2 separate regions of the Homo sapiens genome follow, and region 2 is linked to region 1. Evidence: fine-mapped expression QTL. A gene starts in region 1. The other region holds a variant in brackets. All regions are shown on one strand. Distances are between the middles of the regions. Region 1 holds the start of ARF5 (ARF GTPase 5). Region 2 overlaps LOC105375490 (a long non-coding RNA gene).

Region 1 (11,624 bases):
CCTATTACCTGCTTGGATTCTGCAAGACACATATTATACTGAACAATATGAAGCACCTTGGTACATCTGCTATTGTTCTGCTTTCCACCTAACCACATATAATGTGTGTTACTGTTGTTTCTCAGGTGCTTCCTCAAATCCTATTAAGAAATCATACAGCATTCTTTTCCTTATCCAATATTCCTGGAAGTTCAAAACTGCGCTGGATCTCCCTCTCCACATTGAAAGGAGGCACCCTTTCAATACCTGTTCTGGAAAATAGCACTTCTCCAGAACAGGCACATCTTGAGTAAAGGCAATGACAAGAGGTTACTTCTGAGAAAATCCCCTTTGCCTTCGGCCACTCTTCCTAGAGGCACATACCAACAGAAGACACGCTACCTTTTACTATACAGCTGCCACTATACTGCTTCATAGAGCACAGCTGGTAAGATGCCAATGCCCAGAAGTGCAGAGCTGTCTGGCTTCAACCCAGCCTACACTGAGAAGCTCCACATCCTCCTGGAAGCACATATGTCAACACCGCATAGAACAGGACTTCCCAGGTTCACTAGTGGAACTTCTCAGGTGGCATCAAAAATGACAGTATAGACACTTAGCTCTAACTAGCAAAGGAGGAAAAAAACCCTAATATTTCTCACTTCAGGTCAATGGCTGATGTTTGAAAGAGATATGGATAATTACCTTTCTCATTTCCTGCTGTAACTGAGCCTGGAAATGGCTCTTAAGGCGGGCAGCCTCTTCCTGAAGTTCTTGCAGCCGGGGATCTGGCTGATTCTTCTCATCTCGAATGGCCTGCAGTTCACTTTTCAGCTCCTCCACCTCACGGGTCAGCTGCTTGGTCTGCAGTTCAAATCCTTCCATCTGTTCAGCTGCATATGCTCGTCCTGCCAAGGCTTCTCGGGTCTCTTCTAACCTAAGCTCCAAGTCCTGGCGCTGGGTCCTCTCCTCCTGCAGCAGCTTCTGGAGCTCACGCAGCATCAAGGCATGGTCACTCTGCTCTTGGGCCCGATCATGCTGCTGCGTGATAAGCCGGGCTTTGGTTTCTGCTATTTGCTCCTGCAGCCCCTTCAATTCTCCCTCCAGGCGGGCCCTCTCCTCCTCCGCCTTGTTACTGGCATCCTCTAAGTCCTGTTTCATCTTTTTCTTGTCAGCCAAGTAAGAAGCCTCCATGCGGGACTTCTCCTGAGTGACTGTAGCCAAAGAACTGGTCAAAGTAGCCAACTGAGTCTTCAGCTGGTGCAGTCTTTTGTCCACCTCCCCACCTGCAAATGGCCCATCCCCACTGCTACTGCTAACGCCACTCTCGGACCAACTGGCCTCTTCGGACTTTGGAGGTGGTGGTCCACGGGCCGGTCTGTCATCTTCTACCCCAAACTCACCCTTGGTGCTGGTGAGACTGGCCGCAGTATCCAAGCTAGTGGCGGTCCCAGTGCTATCCTCGCTGTGAGTGGAGCACCGGTCATCCACAGAGTCAGGAAAGGTGAGGCCTGGAAGCTGGACACCTGCGAGGCCCACATCTGCCTCGTGGGATACCGACAGCACCTTGATGCTGGCCTCTAATGCCTCTTTCTCCTTCAGCAGGCTTTTATAGGCACGGACCACATCCTTGAGCCGTGCCTGGTACTGGAGAAGCTGCTTCTTCTGGGTCTCTATAGTCTCCAGCAAGTCCTTCTTGCTCGGGCCGCCCCCGAAATTCATCCCAAACTTCTCCATGGAGGGTCTGAACGGATTGCCCCACGTCAGCTTTCCAGCAGAACGGGAGAGGGCCGTGAAGACGCAGGCGGGGGCTTAAAGAAACAGCGAGCGGGCTGTCCGGCGGCGGGCCGCACACCTACTCCACCTAGTTATCCCGGACCTAATGCGGAACGGCCGGACGGACTGGCGAAAGCGGCCGCCCGGTCCCAGGCCCGGAGGGCTGGGGCGGATTCTACCCCGGAGGCGGGGCGACACTGGCACCAGAGGTGCGCACTGCCAGGGCTCGTTAGCGCTGGCCCAGAAGCCGCTCCGCACTCTCCGCTCGTCTGGGCCACAGCAGCCCGGGCCGGCCCCCTCGGCCCACGTCGGCCAGAGGGTTACGCTGAGCTCGGTCCCATCACGACATCCTAACTAAAGCTGCCTGCCGACAACGGCGCTTCCGTGTCCGCTGGAAGTGACGTCAGCGAGGCGCCGCAGGCTCCGCCCCCAGTGGGCCCAAGGTAGGCGGGGCCAAGTCGGCCGGTGGGTGGGCGCGGCCTGTTGAGAACGCAGTGGGGCCGCGAGCGGCAAAAAACAGGCTTGGGAAAGGCGAAGCCAGCAAAGTCGAAGACACCAGAGTGGCACCGGTTTTGTGAGAGCGCCCAAGCTTGACCTCGGGCTACGCTCAGCGAGCGACAGAGCAACGTCGCACTGCATTCTTACCAAACACCCAGGTGAACGACGCATCCAACGATTTGGGAGCTCAGGACCCATGGTCCCTAAAAGGCAACAATTAAGACTCCCATTTAGACCACGAAAACTGCAGTCCTCTATAGCACAGTGCTTGGTACCTAGTAGGCATACAGCCTAATAGTACCCTTCCTTAGTTCTGCTGAGTTGATTCCACAAATATTTACGGAGGGCACTCTATAGCCATGTCTATCCTGAGTGCCAGCTATATACCAGGAGCTCACAAGAGTTTTGCTATTTAGTCTTTACAGTAATTCTTGTAAGCACTATACTCATTAGCACTATTTTACAGATATGAAAACATGAGGCAGAAAGGTTATACGTAACATGCCCAAGGTCACACAGCTAGTAAGTTTAGGAGTTCTAATCAGTCTGATTCTCAACGTATCACGTGCTGTGCCAGATGGTAACACCATTAAGAGACACGACCTTGCCCTCAGGGAGCTCGCAATCTAGTGAGGAACCAGACATACAAATATGTCCTGCTATCACACCAGTATGTCTGGGTATATTCAAAGTGGTATGAAAGTTAAGAGGAAAGAGGCCTGTCTAGGTGAGGCATGGAAGGCTCTTGGGAATAATACTTTGGGATTTGAAGGATGAGTCGTGATTGTCCACCTAACCAGAGATCAGGGAAACTAGCATTCCAGGCAGGTGGAAAAAAATGCAAAGACCTGTAGGGTATCGGAGTTTGACTCACCCAGAAAGCATTCAGTAGCTTAGGGTATGTGAAGGAGGTGACAACAGAGGGGCTGGCACAATAGGTAGGGACCCAACTTATGGCATTTAAATTTTATCTTGGGTTATAGTAAGGCCCTAATGGATTTTAATCTGAAAAGTGGGATGTCATCAAGACTTGTATGACATGTTGGAGGGAACAAGGGGCAGGAAACCTGTGAGGAGACTTTCAGTCATGGGGAACAGAAGGTAGTGACAACAGAGATGGAAGCAAAGAGGCTGATAAAAGAGCTAAATGTAGAATTGACCTAACTTGGTGAACACTAGTTCTGTTATTATATTGGAACTCTCTAAAATGTACTCTTCAGCCTCGTAAAAGCCTTCTTAGGGATGCAAGTCTATGACTGAAGAGAAAAGGAAAGTCATTCACTCACTCATACCTGTTTCCCAAAGTCTGTCCTTGTTACAGACTTTGCAGATCAGGATGGGGCAGGCCCTGGAGGTCTGTTCAGACCCCGTTTCTCAGTGGCCCAAATAACATCAAGCTGTATTATACATAACATTCAGTCACATTATCAAATCATTTTAAGATTCACCATAACCCCTTAAGTTAGAACAAGTCTCATTTTATAGATGATGAAATAACGGAAGAGTTATGAGGAGTGCTGAAGCCAAATCCTCAAGAAATGGCAGAATTAAGATTTGAACTAAAGCCTGAAATCACGTGCTGGCAAGTGGTGGGTGCTCAGTAAATATCTGCTGAAAAAGCAAATGAATGAGTGAAGGTTTTTTTATTCCCAGCTCAGTTTACCTCGAGTCCATAAACAATTGATCCTAGAAGCCCACTGGGAATCCAGAGTAGACATAACACCTACCCTCGCTCCATTGAGAATCTATCAGTCCAGTTCAACTGAACAAGCATTTGTTAGGCCTAATAATGCCTGGCAATGAGCCAGTCTCCACCGCAGAAGAATTTCATTCCTATTTTGCTATTCTCCTCTCAGATGTTAAAATGAGGCAGGGAAATGACATGTGAAGCTCTTTGGGTCTACGGAGTCAAGATCTTCACAAAATCCTGAATGGATGTGCAAGAATAAGCCAGGTCCACAAGTCTGTGGCAAAGTGAGGAACTTCGGCAAAGCGGCCAGCGCCTGGACTGAGAGGCGGGGCCCGCAGGGCGATCCAAACGAAGGTGGACTTCTCCAACAGCCCAGGAGTGGGTCTGTGACCCCGCCGCCCAAGGCCGGGAATCTTACACTGGTTCTGCGGATTGGGAATTAGGAAGTAGGCGTTTTGAGGAACCATGGAAGCTAGCTAGCACTCGGGCACCTTCCCCTACCTCCCGCGCACTCTTCACACGACCACCTACTACGCGCAAGTCCCTCGGTGGAAGATGAGGCAGTAAAGGGAGGACCAAGACCCCTAATCGCAGCTTCCACTCCCCAAAGGAGAGTGGTGCACACGTTCAGTGCTACTGGTTCCCAAGGGCTAAAACCGGAGCCCCTAGGGGCCTGGACGCAACAAACCAAAGCCCAGCGGCCGGCCACTGAAAATGGGGGCAGGGGCCGCTGCGGAGCGATGAATCCTTTCCTCAGCCGCGCTCGGGCTGCCGGTTCGGCGGCCACAGGCCTGGCAGGCGCGTTAGAGACCTAGACCCGTTCCCAAGTAAGGGCCGCACGGGACCCAGGCCAGCAGCGGCAACTCGCGGAGCTTCAGCTCCCCTAGGAGCCAGAGCCGGGGGAGGCGGGGCCGAGAGCCGGGGGCGGGGCCCGGACGGGGGCGGGCCCGCGGTGACGTCGGGAGGGCAGCGACGCGCGGAGGCGGCGGCGGAGCCTCCTCCTGCTGCTGCTGCGCCCCATCCCCCCGCGGCCGGCCAGTTCCAGCCCGCACCCCGCGTCGGTGCCCGCGCCCCTCCCCGGGCCCCGCCATGGGCCTCACCGTGTCCGCGCTCTTTTCGCGGATCTTCGGGAAGAAGCAGATGCGGATTCTCATGGGTGAGGCAGATCGAGCGCGCGGCCCGGACCGGGGCGCCGGCCCCGGCGCAGCCCTTCCGCCCCCGCGTCCCTCCAGCCCCGCTCACCTGGGTCTCTGGCCCCGAGTCACCCACCTCATAACGCCCCGGGGCCTCTGCTCTCGGGCGGGTCCCGGTCTGCATCGCCGACCCCGGGGCCTGACACCCGGAGCTGCGGGCCTGGGTGGGGTGAAGCTCCCTCCGCCCCAGCCCGGCTGGTAAGAAGGGAGGATTCCGCCCTTGGAGACGACTTTTAAAACGAGCGCGGCCTACCTCCCGTGCCCCTTGCCTCCCAGTCCTCTCCCGCTCCGCGCCCTCTTTGGAGTTGGCTCACGCCACCCGACTGCCCTCCAGGCCTCAAAGGTAGATAACGACGCGCACCTGGAGGCGCTCCCGCTCTCCGCCCCAGTCACCATCAGCTGTTGTGGCCTCTCCCTTTCCCTGGTCTCTAGGGGGCTCCCTCGCTCCCATCTCCATCCCTGTGCCCCTTTCCGTTGCAGTTGGCTTGGATGCGGCTGGCAAGACCACAATCCTGTACAAACTGAAGTTGGGGGAGATTGTCACCACCATCCCAACCATAGGTGAGCCCGGGGACGAAGCAGGGAGCGGGAGCGCCGCGGCGGGCCCTCGCGGGGTCTGCTCCCAGTTCTGCCACTTTTCTGGAGCTGACCCTGACACCAGATACAGCTATTTGAGAAGTGGGTCAGGGTATCTCTACGTGGATACCGGAGGCAGGGTGGATGTGACCTAGCCCCGCCCTGTTGACCGCCAGTTCTGGGGTTCTGTTCCCCTGGGCCTTGATCATTGCCTTCTGGTTTTGTGTCCCTGCTGAAATCTAAGTAGTTTTAGTGAGTTCCTTTCTTTCAGGAGTTTTCTCATCTTTTTTTTCCAATTATCTGCAGGCTTCAATGTAGAAACAGTGGAATATAAGAACATCTGTTTCACAGTCTGGGACGTGGGAGGCCAGGACAAGATTCGGCCTCTGTGGCGGCACTACTTCCAGAACACTCAGGTGGAGTGTTGGGAGGGGACTTTCTAACCCCACGGGAAAAGGTGTTAGGGCTGGGAGAACAGAATTGTTGGCCTAGGCTGGGCCCCCAGGCCAAGGAAAAAACCCTTCCCCACTTCTACCCCTTCTGTTTGGCTATCCCCTACTCACTCTTCAGAACTCACCTTAGTCTTCCCCAGCTTGGACTTCTCTTTAGAAGCAGGATTCTGGGACCAGGCTGCCTGATTTAGCCCTCATAACATGTCTTTATTTCCTTGCACATCTTTGGATAAACTACTTCCTCTTTGCAGTGGGGTCTCTAGTTTGTGCCATGACTCCTGTAGAGCTTCTATAGAGTTCTGTAAACTTCTGTAGAGTTTACTAGATGAGAAGGATTGACACAATTACAAATGGGAAGAAAACAGAAAGGGCCACACTACGGTATGTCCCAGGCAGAAGTGATTGCTTCTCCTTTCTTCCTTCCTTCCTGCCCAGGGCCTCATCTTTGTGGTGGACAGTAATGACCGGGAGCGGGTCCAAGAATCTGCTGATGAACTCCAGAAGATGGTGAGTACCCAGAGCCCTGGGAACTGAGCCCTCAGCTTGGGGACAGAGTGATCTCTGTAGTGGTATAGAAGTCAGGGAGCCCCCAACAGGCATTGAAGACCAGGAATATAAGTTTTTCTTTGTGGACAGACACATTGTGTATCTCACCCTGTTTTGGATGGGAGTGACTTTTTCACTTTTTCTGTGCATTGTCTTGTCTTTTTTTTTTTTTGAAATGGGAGTTTTGCTGTTGTTGCCCAGGCTGGAGTGCAATGGTGCAATCTCGGCTCACTGCAACCTCCGTCTCCCGGGTTCAAGCAATTCTCCTGCCTCAGCCTCCCAAGTAGCTGGGATTACAGGCGCCCGCTGCCATGCCCAGTTAATTTTTGTATTTTTAGTAGAGACGGGGTTTCACCATGTTGGCCAGGCTGGTCTTGAACCCCCAACCTCAGGTGATCCACCCGTCTTGGTCTCCCAAAGTGCTGGGATTACAGGAGTGAGCCACTGCGCCCGGCCGCATTCTCATGTCTTTACATCTGAGTCTGAGAAGTTGTGGGAGAGATGGGACTTATATGTGGCAAAGAGAAACATTTTACATTCCTGCCTTTTCCATTTGGAAATGTTGTCATTTTGCCTAGGCAAGTACTCAAATTAGGAAAAGGTCTTTCTTTTCTGGACTTATGGGCTCAGGTCACCTCAAGCTCATTTACAACTATGTCTTGTCTTCAACGGCAGACTGCACAATACTTTTTTTTTCCAATCAAGATGCTAGGAGGTAGAAAGGGAATTCCCCAACACAGTAGAGGAGACGCAGCCTGGGTCCCACCTTCTCTTCTCCTCTCTCAGCTGCAGGAGGACGAGCTGCGGGATGCAGTGCTGCTGGTATTTGCCAACAAGCAGGACATGCCCAACGCCATGCCCGTGAGCGAGCTGACTGACAAGCTGGGGCTACAGCACTTACGCAGCCGCACGGTAGGGGTCCTGCCCACCTGGTGCTGAATCCTGCCTCTTGAGGGAAGCTGCAGGCTGGGACAGAGATATAAAGGCATTCCTTTTGTTCCTGGTTGCTGACCTCTTTCTTTCCTTTTCCCCACAGTGGTATGTCCAGGCCACCTGTGCCACCCAAGGCACAGGTCTGTACGATGGTCTGGACTGGCTGTCCCACGAGCTGTCAAAGCGCTAACCAGCCAGGGGCAGGCCCCTGATGCCCGGAAGCTCCTGCGTGCATCCCCGGGATGACCAGACTCCCGGACTCCTCAGGCAGTGCCCTTTCCTCCCACTTTTCCTCCCCCATAGCCACAGGCCTCTGCTCCTGCTCCTGCCTGCATGTTCTCTCTGTTGTTGGAGCCTGGAGCCTTGCTCTCTGGGCACAGAGGGGTCCACTCTCCTGCCTGCTGGGACCTATGGAAGGGGCTTCCTGGCCAAGGCCCCCTCTTCCAGAGGAGGAGCAGGGATCTGGGTTTCCTTTTTTTTTTCTGTTTTGGGTGTACTCTAGGGGCCAGGTTGGGAGGGGGAAGGTGAGGGCTTCGGGTGGTGCTATAATGTGGCACTGGATCTTGAGTAATAAATTTGCTGTGGTTTGTACACGGTGTTGTCTGTAGCCTGCAAAGGAGAGGCTAGGTTACTGGGTACCAAGAGACAACGTGGGAGAGGATCAAAGCAGCTAAGGCTGCAGGGCAACCCCACCCACACATACCCTCAGCTCAGCTTCTCCCTCCTTATTCTTGGGCTGGAAATACTGTAGGGTTTACAGTGGTGCAAATCTCATTCCTTCCCAGCTCCAAGGAGCCTTTGCTGAAGATTACAGGATCTCCCTTCATAGTTCCATGAACCACGTAATTGTTTCCCATCATTCTCGTAGCTACTTAGAGCCGTTCTTAATGTTTGCCTTACACATTAAAATTAGAGGGGGAGAGAATGTGCGTTAATAATACGAATCCTGAGGTACATTTCAGAAAATGTGATTCATCAGGACTAGTCTGATGCCCAACAATATGCATCTTTAAAATTACCCAGAGGAGGCCGGGCGCAGTGGCTCACGCTTGTAATCCCAGCACTCTGGGAGGCTGAGGCAGGCGGATCACGAGGTCAGAAGATCGAGACCACGGTGAAACCCCATCTCTACTAGAAAAAAAAAAATACAAAAAATTATCCAGGCGTGGTGGCAGGCACCTGTAGCCCCAGCTACTCAGGAGGCTGAGGCAGGAGAATGGTGTGAACCTGGGAGGCGGAGCTTGCAGTGAGCTGAGATCGTGCCACTGCACTCCAGCCTGGGTGACAGGGTGAGACTCCGTCTCAAAATAAATAAATAAATTAAATAAATAAATAAAATTACCCAGGGAATTCTGCCACTAATAGTCTATTACCCTTATTTTATAAAACATCGGTGGGGTCTGGGGCTTGTAGTTCCTTGCTGCACACCACTGAGACTCTTGCTACTTGGGAAGACCCCTCCTATGGGGAATAGGAAAGCAGGTATAAGGAACCACGGGTGGCTGGGCACTGTGGCTCATGCCTGTAATCCTAGCACTTTGGGAGGCTGAGGTAGGAGGATTGCTTGAGCCCAGAAGTTAAAGACCAGCCTGGGCAACATGGCAAGACCCCATCTCTACAAAAAACAAAAATAAAAAATTACCTGGGCATGGAGATGGACACCTGTGGTCCCAGCACCTCAGGAGGCTGAGGCGGGAGGATCGCTTGAGCTTGGGAGATCAAGGCTGCAGTCAACTGAGATGCACTCCAACCTGGCTAGCAGAGCAAGACCCTGACTCAGAAAAAGGAACCAGGGGTGTGGCTTATTCCCCAAGTGTGATCGACTGCCCATTTTCCCTTGGATCCTAGCCAGGCTTAGGCAGAACTCATCATCACTTGTTTTTGCCTTTGTTTTTCTTTCATGTCACTTTTCCAGGTTCTGAGCTGGGTTTTCTCCTCAAGCTTTGCAGGAAGTGAGTCCAAGAGACTATAACTCAGAGATTCTTTGGAGGGGAAAGATACCCTTGCAGGAGCTCTATCTGCCCAGCCAGATGTCCTACCCACTGGCAGAGCAGCTGGGGTTGAGGAGGGGTGCTTGGTGCTCTCTCCACCTAGGCCCTTCTCCTTACCCAGGTCCTGAGCCAGCCTTCCTGATGAATATGAGTAATTTGATGTCAACTGATTAACTAGGGTTTCCTCATACTCCCTGCAAAATAGCATCTGGAACATTTTGACCTCATCCTCCTAAGGGCCATAAAAGCTGATAGATTTTTCTTGGTTATCTTGAACTTAACAAAATACTTGAGTTGCAAGGGAGCCAGGCAGAACTCACTTCCTTGGGAGAAAGGAGGTTGCTTTCTATCCTGTTACCAGAATGAGAAACGGAGGTAAAGAAAGGAAAAAACTTGCCTAAATTCACAGGTTGAAGTTCCGGATCCTGGTCTCAGCTCAGCCTACTTTGGTGCCCAAAGGGGAATAGGAAGGCAAACACCGGAGGCTCTGCACCCGCCTCCTCTAGGCCATGGATTAATGCTGCTGCGCCAGGGCCCTTTCCCCACTGTGGTGTGATAAGAGGCTGCCCTCACAGTCACAATGCTCCCGGGTCACAGAGGTGCTGGGCCCCAGGCCAGCCTCTGCCTGGGAAGTTCTCTCTGGGAACATCTGGTGGGTACTACAGGCCCTATTCCAGGCCCTATGGCCTGTGGAACCTCACCACGGGGGGGAGGGCTGGGCCAGACGGAGACATCACCTGTGGTGTCAGCCCCATGGATGAGACAGAGTGGATACACAGACATCCCAAGGCTGAGGACCTAAGGGTTGGGCTCATCAGCTGGGCAGGAACCTACCTCACCTTTGAGGCATGCAAGAATACAGTCACTGCAACTGCGAAGAGTTTGGGCAGGAGACAGGTGACAAAGCAAACCCATGCTGGCACCAGTTTTCTGAGTGGCCAAGCTGTGTGTGTGTGTGTGCGCGCGCGCGTGTGTGTGCGTGAGTGTATGTGTGTGTGTGTGTGTATGTACTTGCCTGTATATGAAAGTATACTGGAACCGGTTTTCTGAGTGGCCAAGCTGTGTGTGTGTGTGTGTGTGTGTGTGTGTGTGTGTGTACTTGCCTGTATATGAAAGTATACTGGAACCAGTTTTCTGAGTGGCCAAGCTGTGTGTGTGTGTGTGTGTGTGTGTGTGTGTGCGCACTTGCCTGTATATGAAAGCAGGGTGTACTCTCAACCTAATCACTTTCCTAGGTTCTGCCAGTGCCAGGCCTGAGACTTTTCTACTCTAGGCTTTTGTTCACAGACCCTATTGCCCCATCTCCCACCTCTCAATTTATTCCGCAAGGTGAAGCCTCAGCCTTGCCCTTGCTGCCTTGTCCTGCTCTAACTGTCCCTATTCCCCATCCCAGCACAGGGTGGTTGTGTCAGAAAGAAGAGAAGTGGAGAGCACAGGGTGGTTGTGTCAGAAAGAGGAGAAGTGGAGAGCCCAGGTGGGAAAGCAGAATTGTGGGCATCCAGGGGAAGTTGGACCAGTGGAGTTATTGCAAAGCCTATGTTTCTGTTCTGGTTGTGGTTTGAGAATGGGGAACTCCAGAAGCCCTAGCAGTGTCGGTCTTCATTCTAGAGAGGAATGTAGGCACCTCTGGGATGGGTGCCAGACTGAGGCAGGGGCAAAGTTCTTCCTCTTATAACAAGGTTGATCACAGCTGAACCAGGCAGTTGCATCTGAACTGTTCATGCTCCCATCTTCATCCCTGGAGCCAGGGCCTGCCTATAAGAGCTTTTGCTTCTGTCTTGCCATGCTGGAAGGCAACCTTTGGGGATGGAGGTATTGGCTAAGTGTGCTCTCTGCGGACAACAGTGAGGAAGAAAAAAGTAAGACTTACACCAAAGCGTTTCTTTAAAAATTAGGTATTGAAGAGTGGGATTAAGAAAGGAGGGAGGGTTTACCTTCTGTTAGCTGAAGGAGGTAGACATCTAGAACTTCTCTTTGGATAGTGCCATCT
Region 2 (11,624 bases), 57 kb before region 1:
TGTTATTTAACCTTGCCAGCCTCACTTATGCTCACTGTAAAGTGACGGATAATTATACCCACCTCACACATTGTAGAGAATGAAACAATCTACAGAGCACTAATTGGGGTCTTGACAGGGGGTGAACACTCTGTAATTATAGCCATTATCTCAGAGGCCCCTTCCAGTTCTAAAATGTTCTGAGACGTCAAATAGAATTATATTTAAGTCATATATATTACAAAAATAGTAATCAACGTAGAATAATAGCTTATGATGACATAATGCAGAACTTAATAAGGAAATGTGGAAGAAGTCTTCTGATCATTTTGCACAAACACTTCCATTACGACAGTGTGTACTCGGTACTTTTTTCCATCTTTTGCCAGTTGCCAGATTTCTCAGATGAGAAAGAATGCCTAATAAGATTTGAGGTGTAGTTCAGTTGTCCCTGAATACACAAACATTTTCTTTCTATAATGCAGCTAAATTCTGGCCACGACTCTCTTATTGCTCCTGTGGGTCACAAAATTGGTGGATGTGCACATGTTAGTCTGTGGCAAGTCACAGCAACAGACACTGTTGTCTCTGCCCTTTATGTTCCGAGTCAGACAGAAGACTCTTTGATGATGGCCTAGCAGGTTTTTTTCCAGCTAATTTTGATGCCTGTGTGCTTGAGATGCTATTTCTTACATCATCAAGCAAACATTACTGGCATAATTTGAAAAATTACAAAATTACAGGGATGTCTCTATTTACTGTTTTGACAGACTGACTTCTCGTTCTCAAGGTGTCTCCCCTTTTCTTCAAGTGGTAATTTACCAAAAAGTTAGTTACCGATCATTAGTTCCCACATGGACCTAGCCCAGTAGTCTAAATTAAGAGTGAAAAAAGAGGAAAATCATGTAACTTACCCCCAGTGCAGCCAATAATTTTTCTCAGAAAATAGAGAAACAGAAATGACTAAAGGAGAAATTACTATTAATTTCATTAATAATAATAATGTCAACAATAACAATTCCTGCAAAAAAAAACCCTTAGACTTAGTCATGAGATAATGAAGCCTCATTTTATTTTTAAGTAAATACATGCCACATGAAGAAACAGCAGCTTGTGGTTAGATCTAGAGCCATTCAAATCTCTCCAAGCCTACAAACATACCATAAAATAAAAAACATTCTGGTATTCATAGGTAAGCACATCTGTAGTGAATTTGCTAACTAGGGAAGACAGAGAACAGTCACAGAGGCAGAGACCCCCTTCTCTGTGACTCACCTTTCCACTGGGGCTCTGAGCAACCCAGGCCGAGGGAGACCACTTTGTTTCTCCCAAGCCCTGGAGCTAAGTTGGGGAGAGGCTTGGAGATGCTGTGAGGGAAAGACACCAGGAAAAGCTGCAGACATTTTTCTAGACCCAGGACTGAGAGCAGGATGCCATTCTTAATCCAAGCACATACCAATCAGCCACTCTTAGGCAGCCCGGCAGCATGGCCACGCAGGCATTTTAGTCTCAAGCACCTACTCTGAACTATGGAAGGGGCCTCAACAGCCAGAACTGTCGAAAGTGCCTCAGCAGTAGGGCTAGAATTGGGCTCTCTCCAGTCACAAGCCTGGGGCAGGAAGAGGCTACTACAGCTGCAGTTTCTCCTTGGCAAAAAACAAGCACAAACTAATCTGAAAGCTAGCAGGATAAAAGAAATAACTAAAATCAGAGCTGAGGTGAATGAAATCGAGACTCGAAAAATCGAGACCCGAAAATCCGTAAAAAGAATAAACAAAACCAAAAGTTGGTTCTACGAAAGTATAAACAGGATTGACAGACCACTAGCTAGATTAACAAAGAAAAAAAGAGAGAAGGTCCAATCAAGCACTATCAGAAATGACAAAAGTGACATTACAACTCATCCCTCAGAAATACAAAAGATCCTCAGAGACTATTATGAACACCTCTATGCACACAAACTAGAAAATCTAGAGAAAATAAATTTCTGAAAACACATAATGTCCCAAGATTGAATAAGGAAGAAATTGAAACACTGAACAAACTAATGTCGAGTTCCAAAATTGAATCAGTATAAAAAACTTACCAATCATAAAAAGCCCTGGACCAGACAGATTCACTGCTGAATTCTACCAGATGTACAAAGAAGAGCTGGTACCAATTCTACTGAAACTATTCCAAAAAAACAAATAGGAGGGACTGCTCCCTAACTCATTCCACAAAGCCAGCATCACCCTGATACCAAAATCTGGCAAAGACACAATGAAAAAAGAAAACTACAGGCCAATATTCCTGATGAACATAGACACAAAAAGCCTCAACAAAATACTGAATTCAAAAACACATCAAAAAGTTAATTCACCATGATCAAGTAGGCTTGTTTCCTGGGATGCAAGGTTAGTTCAACATATGCAAATCAATACATGTGATTGACCACATAAACAGAGTTAAAAACAAAAACCATAAAATCATCTCAATAGATGCAGAAAAAGCTTTTGATAAATCCCACATCCCTTCATGACAAAAACTCTCAAGAAACTAGGCATCAAAGAACATACCTCAAAATAATAAGAGCCATCTATTGACAAACTCACAGCCAACATCACACCAAATTGGCAAAAACTAGAATCATTTCCCATGAGAACTGGAACAAGACAAGGATGCCCACTCTCACCACTTGTATTCAACATAGTAATGGAATTGCTGGCGAGAGCAACTGGGCAAGAGAAAGAAATAAAAGGGATCCAAATAGGAAAATAAAAAGTCAAATTATCTCTCTTCACTGATGATATAATTCTATACTTAGAAAACCCTAAGGACCCTGCCAAAAGGCTATTAGAACTGATCATTTTAGTAAGGTTTCAGGATATAAAATTAATGTACAAAAAACAATAGCATTTCTATACACCAATAATGTTCAAGCCGAGAATCAAATCAAGAATGCAAACCCATTTACAATAGCCACAGTGCAAACCCAATTACAATAGTACCCCTGCTGACACACACACACACACACACACACACACAAATACCTAGGAACACATCTAGCCAAGGAAGTGAAAGAACTCAACAAGGAGAACTACAAAACTCTGCTAAAAGAAATCACAGATGATACAAACAAATGGAAAGACATTCCCTGCTCGTGAATTGGGAGAATCAATATTATTAAAATGGCCAACTGCCCAAAACAATCTACAGATTCAAAGCTATTCCTATGAGACTACCAATGTCAATTTTCACAGAATTGGGAAAAAAAACTATGCTAAAATTTATACAGAACCAAAAGAGCCCAGATAGCCAAAGCAATTTCAAGCAAAAAGAACAAAGCCAGAGGCATCACATTACCTACCTTCAAACTATACTATAAGGCTACAGTAAACAAAACAGCATGGTACTGGTACAAAAACAGACACATAGACCAGTGGAACAGAAGAGAGAATCAAAAAGTAAAGCCATACACCTATAGCCATCTGATCTTTGACAAAGTTGACAAAAATAAGCAATGAGGAAAAGACTGCCTATTGAATAAATGATACTGGGATAACTGGTTAGCCATATGCAGAAGAATGAAACTGGACTTTCACCTCCATCATATAAAAAATTAACTCAAAATGAATTAAAGATTTAAATGTAAGACCTCAAACTATAAGACTCCTAGAAGAAAACCTAGGAAACACCATTCTGGACATTGACTTCGGGAAAGAATTTATGACTAAGTCCTCAAAAGCAATCACAAAAAAATTATGACAAGTGGGACCTAATTAAACTAAAGAGCTTCTGCAGAGCAAAAAAAACTATTAACAGAATAAAAAGACAACCTACAGAATAGGAGAAAATATTTGCAAACTATGCATCTAACAAAGGGCTACTATCCAGAATCCATAAGGAATTTAATTCAACAAGGAAAACACAGAAAACCCTATTTAAAAATGGGCAAAGAATACGAACAGACACTTCTCAAAAGAAGACATACAAGCCAGCAACAAACATGAAAAATGCTCCACATTAGTAATCATCAGAGAAATGCAAATCCAAACCACAATGAGATATCATCTCACACCAGTCAGAGCAGCTATTATTAATGTCAGAAAAACAACAGATGTTGGCAAGGTTGTGGAGAAAAGGGAATGCTTACACACTGTTGATGGGAATGCAAATTAATTAAGTCACCATGGAAAGCAGTTTAGAGATTTCTCAAAGAACTTAAAACAGAAATTCCATTTGCAGCAATCCCATTATTGGGTATATACCCAAAGGAAAACAAATCATTCTACCAAAAGGACACATGTACTTGCATGTTCATCGCAGCACTATTCACAATAGCAAAGACAGGGAATCAACACAGGTGCCCCTCAGTGGTGGATTGGATAAAGAAAATGTAGTATATACACACCATAGAATACTACATAGCCATACAGAAGAATGAAAGTATGTGATTTGCAGCAATATGGATGCAGCTGGAGGCCATTTCCCTAAGCAAATTAACATAGGAATAGAAAACCAAATACCACATGTTCTCACTTATAAATAGGAGTTAAACATTGGGTACTCATGAACATAAAGATGACAACAATATAGACACTGGGGACTACTGGAGCAGGAAGGGAAAGAGGGGGACAAGGGTTGAAAAA[C/T]TAACTGTTGGGTACCATGTTCAGTACCTGGGTGACAGGATCATTCTTACCCAAAACTTCAGCATCATGCAATATATCCAGGCAACAAACCTGCATATGTACCCCTGAATCTAAAATAAAAGTTGAAAAATACATATATTCCATAGTACCAGTAAATTATGCAGGATTTCTCAAAACAGATAACATGCACAATGACATTTAGAATCATATTACTCTATCTTGATACTGTTTTGCCATCTGCAAGACTCTACAATTAATGCATCCTGCTGTAACTTTACTATTTTGTCAAACTGGAATATTGTATGTAGGTCCAAAGGCTTTGTGTTGTAGACACTTAATGAATAAATTGATTTAGAAAACGGGAACCAAGACAAATTCCAGAAAATTCAGGGCATGTTAAAATATTTGGCATTCAAATAGATGACCTGTTATAAAGCCTACATATTTGTATACTTTTTGAAAGGGACTGGACCCCAGAGCCAGATGAACTAAGTTCTACTAAGCTTTGACACTGGAGAATTTAACTTCTCTGTGACTCAGTTTTTTCATTAGTAAAGTGGGGATAGGAGTAGTACATATCATAGGGTTGTAAGGAGAACTAAAAGTGAGCTAACATGTGTAAAACACTTAGAATGGTGTCTGGCACATAGTAAATACTATATGGGAATCAGCTGTTTTTACTTCTCAGGTACTAGAGGTAGGAGCTCCAGTAAGGTGCCATTTTAGCATGACCAATACAAACAAGTCCCTTGGTTTGGCACTTCAGGATTCCTGAACCCAAAGATCCAACTGGGCTAATGACCTAAGCTAACAGATGAGCCCTTCTATTAGCAACATAATGAGTTTGGAGTTCTCTCCTCCAAATGCCTTCAACCCTAAACATCCAGGTGCCGGAGGAGAGCATGCTCTGGATCAGCAGCTAGTAATTAATGAAGAGACACCATTAGGAGCCCATCTATGGATACCACTTTGCAGAAAAGAGTGATACAGTAGAGTCTACCGATAATAACACTTATAAAACATTTTCGATAATTGAAAAGCACTTCAAGATTCAATAATATTTCAGAACTGTTGTTATGAGCATTAGTTATTGATATGGTTTGGATTTGTGTCCCTGCCCAAATCTCATGACAGATTGTAGACCCCAGTGTTAGAGGAGGGGCCTGGTAGCAGGTGATTGGTTCATGGGGACAGATTTCCCCCTTGCTGTTCTCATGATAGTGAGTGAGTTCTCACGAGATCTGGTTGTTTAAAAGTGTATGGCACCTCCCTCTTCTCTTTCTTCCTCCTGCTCTGGCACATAAGACGTGCCTCCTTCCTCTTTGCCTTCCGTCATAATTGTAAGTTTCCTGAGACCTCCCCTGCCATGCTTCCTGTACAGCCTGTGGAAGAGTGAGCCAATTAAACCTTTTTTCTTTATAAATTACCCAGTCTCAGGTAGTTCTTTATAGCAATGCCAGAACAGACTAATACAGTTATCACCATATTATAGAGATACAGGCATGCATAGAAAGATAACAACTTGGCTGGGTGCCAGGGGCTCATGCCTGTAATCCCAGTGCTTTGGGAGGCCAAGGCAGAAGTATTACTTGAGGCCAGGAGCTCAAGACCAGTCTGAGCAACATAACAAGACCCTGTCTATACAAACATAAAATTTTTTTTTTAAATTAGCTAAGTGTGATGATGCACACCTGTAGTCCTAGCTACTCAGTGGGCTGAGACAGGAGGATCACTTGAGCCCAGGAGTTCAAGGCTGCAGTGAGCTATGAACAACAGAACAAGACTAAGGAAGGAAGGAAGGAAGGAAGGAAGGAAGGAAGGAAGGAAGGAAGGAAAGAGAAGGGGAAAGGGAAGGGGAAGGGAGGGGAGGGGAGGGAAGGGAAAGGAAGGAGGGAGAGAGGGAGGGAGGGAGGGAGGCTTTACTATTTTACATTGCCACTAGCAATATATGAGTGATTCATTTTGTCCATATCCTCACCAGCATTCATCACTGTTATTTTTCATTTTAGCCATTCTGATAGGCATGTAGAGATATCTCATTGTGGTTTTTACTTTGCATACCTCTAATGCCTTGTTATGTTGAACATCTTCTCATGTGCTGATTTGACATCTGTGTAGTTTCTTCAGTGAATACTTTTTCTTGCCTTTTGCCCATTTTCTAATTGAATTATTTGGTTTTTATTGCTATGTTTTGAAAATTCTTTATATATTCTAAATACTGGTCCTTTATCAGATATGTGGTTTGAAAATATTTTCTCCCAGTCTCTAGCTTATCTTTTCATCTCCTTGACATAGACTTTCTCAAAGCAAAAGTTTTTAAGATCCAATTGATCAATTTTCCCTTTTATGAATTATGCTTTTGATGTCAAATTTAGAACCCCACAGTAACAGTCATCACACTAGAAGTAGGGTGAGCTATTCATCCAGGTTTCCCCAGGACTTTCCTGACTTTAGCACTGAAAGTTTCACATTCTGGGAAACCCTTCAGTTCCAGAGAAACCATGATGATCACCCAAACTAGAACCTGCCCCTCTTTTGCACCAAAGCAACAGTGAAGGGGCTAGTTCACTTTTAGGAACAGGAAGACAGCATATACTGTGACTTAGAACCAGTACATGAGATCACTATACATGAGTACATTGTGACGCTGCAAGGTTATGCCATGTGCAATGGTAACTTTGCCATTTCCTCCTTTACTATAATGGGCTTGATGCTCTAGAAAGGTGGGCTGGCAGGGAAACAGAGAGCTTCACTTACATGCTCATCCCTTAGATCCTGCGCCCCCCATTCTGGAGTCTGGACCTGGGACAGCTCTTCTCCCAATTCCCACCCACATCCTCCCCCATGTAGTTCAATCCTTTGAGCCAGGGTCCTCTATCCTGGCTGCACACCAGAATCCCCTAAGCAGCTCTGCAAAAATGCTCATGACTGGGCTTCCTCTCCAACCAATTAAATTTGATTCCCTGGGAGTGGGGCCCAGGCATTTATCAATTGTAAAAAATCCTCAAGTGATTCCAGTGTGTGGCTAGGGTTGAGCCTCCCTGCTCCAGGCTCTAGGAGTGTAAACCGAGGGGGAGCAGGGATGAGATCTGTCTGCTACCACTGTACCCACAGCACCTGGTACAGTGCCCACCTGTAGTAGGCCTCTGATATATATTTGGTAATTTTTTAAATGAGTGAATAATACAGAAATGATCAAAGACTGGGACCAAATACCACTTACTTTGTCTCTGCTGCTTGAAACCGAAGAATCAAATCAGGTGCAAGATAAACTGTAAGATAAGCCTACCTAAAACTAGACTGTCCCCACACCCTTCCTAATCTCCCAGAAAAGCTACTGGAGTTGAAAAGTCAAGAAATTCCTCATTGCATCAATGGGCATTTTTATTCCCATCATGTTACAAATGGATATTTGGCTCTGGGACAGTGAGAGTGCACCTCGTCTCCAGGTGAGTTAGAATCCAGAGCCCCTGGTGGCATCAGCCTCACCAGGGAGCTGGCTAGAAATGCAGATTGTCAGGCCCCATTCCAGACCAACTGAATTAGAATCTATTTTAATAAGAACCCCAGTCATCCACATGCTCACTAAAATTTGGGAAGCACCCATCCAAACCAAATGACTGAGAAGTGATCATGGGAGAGAATCAGGTAGCTGTCCTGGAAGAGCAATGACCCCGCATCCCTCGCCCCAACCAAGCCTGTGAAGGAAAGAGACCCTCAATGAGGTCGGGGAAAGAGAAAGGGGTGGAGCCATACACAGAGGTCAAATCACAGCATTATTGGCCTTCACAAAATCCCGTGAGGCATCTTAGGACTTGAATCCTTAACCTTTCAAGTCTAAGCCTTGAGCTTGGAAGATTCATGAGCAAGCAAATGGATGCAGCAGAGAAGAAGAACCTGCAGATGCCGTGTCATGTGTTTTTAATTTCCTGAAGGATTTGGGTGATGACAGGGCTAAGTATCATCCTGAGATGGACTGGAGAATGTGGCAGTGTCTCTGAATTACCCGGCAGCAGAGGCAAGCTCCCTGGAGTTGCTGTGGGAGGCAGGGTGGGTGGGCCTCCTTGCTCCCTCCCCCACGTGGCCAGAGTTTTGTAATTCCCACATGACGTCCACTGTGCTGGGCAGTCCCCTCACAGCACAAGGCCCCTTAGAAACCTTTGCTTGTCTCTGTCCCGTCCAGCATTTTAGTTAGCATGTCAGCATCCTCACCAGTGTTTACGATTGGGAGCTTATTATTTTCATCACTTACTTCTTTCTAAAAGCAGCCATTGCTGGAGTTTGACGATGAAAAGGGATGGCTGTGGTCATTTTGTACATCAGGGGCACTTATACCTGCAAGGAAATAATTTATTTTTTGCAAATTCTAGATACCTGATTGTACTCCTTTATGCAATTTTCTCTAGATTCTAGTATTATCTATGCATCCCTTCCTGCAGAGACAATAGCTTATGCCCACCACAAGTTTATAGAGAACAGCCCCCAAACTAGGGTAAACATTGAGGAAAGAGCTAAAACCTCAACAAACTTCATCCTAAGTCCCTCTCTGCCCTCAATCCTAACCTGAGTGTGGTGGCAGAGACACAGAAGCACCAGAATGGGCTCTCTCAGGTAGAAACTGTGCTGAAACAATTATGCTTTGCTCTTGATGAAATTGGTTAAACTATTTGCTGCTTTACAACATCATATACGGAAAACATTTTTCTTGCCTAGACATGGCTTGAGGCGGTTTTTGCATTCTGCATCAGGAGGAAATTGATTAATGTGAATGTTTTAGCTGTGGTTGTTGTTTGTGTATAAACTTTTGTTGAAACAAGTAGGACAGAATAAATGACCTTTATGTAGACACCTATTAAGGCACTAAAAGGCTTGGCTACATTCATCTGAGACGCGTACACATAACGAGTAGAACAATAAGGGGATCAGCAGCTGCAAGGAGTTGAATTGAATTCTTCAACAATAGAAAAGTTTTTCAGACCCAAATACCAGCAATCAAAGAGAATTTTTGCAGATAATCCAAGAGAAAGAAAATAAAAAAAAAAATGCTAGCCAACTTTGCACCAGTTAGCATAAGGTTGCCATCTGAAACATGTCAGCTTAAGAGCAGACCATACCTCCATTCTTTTGCCCAACTGCAGTATTCAGAACTGTTTCCCCAAATAATCCCAGATGGCACACCACAAAATTTCAATTCATTTTAAAAGCTTTCTTTGCTGTTATTATGTGATTGAAAGTGCAAAAGCAAGTTGCCATTCTCATGGCACTATTTGCATTGACTATTATCCCCTAAAATCCCCTTTAAACAGCTACATTGTCAGCCCATAGGCCTCATTTAGAACTACAAAAAAGCCCAGATTAATTCGATCAAAGAAAGAGCCAAGTACAAAATGCACTTTTCAAACTGTATCAGAGTGGGTTCGCTTTACAGATCGCTTTGGGGCAAGAACCGCAGGGGAAAGAAAGTCCTGAAATAAAGCTTGGTTACGAAGCGAAATAACTAGGTTTGGCTCCCTGATTTATTTGAGCATCTCAAGGCGAAATCTCCAATTAAGAATTCTTCGAGGGAAATGTATTTAAATATAAATGCTGAAACAGATCCCCACAAATTGCAGCATCCCATTTGCTTTCAGCCATTGGCTTTCAGCCACCATTCTCAGGGGCAGCTTGAAGCCCTGCCTGGGTAACCTGGTTAGTAGGAGGCATTTCTGAAATCTCACACTCTGAATCAAGCCAAAGTACTTTACACTTGTAAAAATGTCTATCTGACTTTTCTCAGCCCATCCCAGAGGAAATGTTTTACGTTACCACAAGAAAATAAATTGCTGGAAAACAATGATGACACCATTTCTTTCAGCAAAACAAAACATGCTAGGATTCAGGTCGAATTCCGCGATGATCCGCCTGCTGCAAGCCCAGGTTCTTACAGGAACGCTGACCGGGCTGTCTGCTGGTCGCGTGGTGTGCTGTTTGTTTTAGTCTCACCTGGGGGTCTGAAGGTGGGGGAGAAGGTTGGGGTGAGCCAAGCTGGAGTTTGGATTTCTTAGGGACTCTCCATTAGTTTCCTAGGCAGGGTTTGCAGCGTCTGTCACCACTGAAGATGGTGCAGCGGCGCGCTGCAGCCGGCATGCTGCACCGAAGCTGTACCCTTCAACGGCTACTTTTGTGTGCTGAGAACATTTTACTGAGGAGGGAACGGCTGCACAAAGGTAGGGCTACAGGGCATGTGCAGCAAGATGTGCAACTGCCTCTTCAGGGACTGAGCAGGACCCAGAAAGCACTGAAAATAGGCAGCTCCAGCAAATATGAAAGTCATCTGCAGGAATGAGCAACCAGGGATGATTTTTGCCAGTTTTTTGGGCTCAATCTTTTGCACCAGAAGAAATGAACTCAAAATCCTGGGCTGTCTGCTGCTCCCCAAACCCACTCTGGAAACAAAAGACCATGATGCTGCTCTAATCATCACACAAAATGTTTAGAAAGGGTGCTATTACAAGGGGCTCCAATCTGAATACCCTGATCCAAACTTCTTGGTCACATGCTTAGCTAGAAATTGACAGAGCTAATAAGATATTCAAATTGCACATAGGTGTTCACCACCCCCAGCCACCAAATCCTTCTAACCATCTTGAGAATTATCTAGAGAAAACAAATATGGATGCAAAACTCTGCAAACTGAAAATGTTACCCCACCTCCACCCCTGGAGTCAGGAAGGCAGGGAAAGAAGTCAGTGGTGAGCACATACACAGGAAAGAGAATATGGAATTGAATTGTTTTCAGTGATGGAAAATATTCAGTTTTCCCCAAATCTTCTAAATTATTTGCAGTCCTGATAGTCCTAACTATTAATTACAGCAATACAGTACAAAGAAAAAGAGTTCTGGTTTTTTGAGAGCTGTATAAACTTTCTGAAATTCTGCAAACCTAAACCTGTCAAGGAAAGGTAGAAAGGCAACCACATGTGTTGATTCCTTAGGAGACAAACTATGTCACTGTGAGAAAATACACTCCAAGGA

What was found. PIP is the estimated chance that this variant, and not a neighbour inherited with it, causes the effect. A credible set is the group of variants that fine-mapping cannot tell apart.
Region 2: its variant is the best candidate, but not a certain one, in a credible set for the expression of ARF5 in whole blood (TOPMed, PIP 0.83).

What each region holds. Positions count from the first base shown.
Region 1 is chr7:127,583,467-127,595,090 of GRCh38, forward strand. ARF5 (ARF GTPase 5) reads left to right here and starts at 4,945. Exons shown (of 6, transcript NM_001662.4): 1 at 4,945-5,099; 2 at 5,617-5,697; 3 at 6,019-6,128; 4 at 6,600-6,671; 5 at 7,497-7,622; 6 at 7,747-8,234. The coding sequence starts at 5,033. The coding sequence ends at 7,833. GCC1 (GRIP and coiled-coil domain containing 1) reads right to left here and starts at 2,130. Exons shown (of 2, transcript NM_024523.6): 1 at 685-2,130. The coding sequence starts at 1,716. LOC105375490 (a long non-coding RNA gene) reads right to left here and starts at 6,380. Exons shown (of 5, transcript XR_007060511.1): 1 at 6,290-6,380. It overlaps LOC105375489 (a long non-coding RNA gene), which reads right to left and starts at 8,774. Exons shown (of 3, transcript XR_007060513.1): 1 at 8,663-8,774; 2 at 8,347-8,538; 3 at 6,403-6,485. It also overlaps FSCN3. RefSeq lists enhancers at 1,479-2,478, 2,199-2,248, 3,766-4,392, 4,393-5,018, 5,019-5,645 and 3 more and a silencer at 4,782-5,271.
Region 2 is chr7:127,526,287-127,537,910 of GRCh38, forward strand. It overlaps LOC105375490 (a long non-coding RNA gene), which reads right to left. Exons shown (of 5, transcript XR_007060511.1): 2 at 8,863-8,945. Among named protein-coding and RNA genes, the nearest start is that of GCC1, 53 kb to the right of the region's middle. RefSeq lists an enhancer at 8,046-11,206. The variant C/T (reference allele first, on the strand shown) is at 4,611.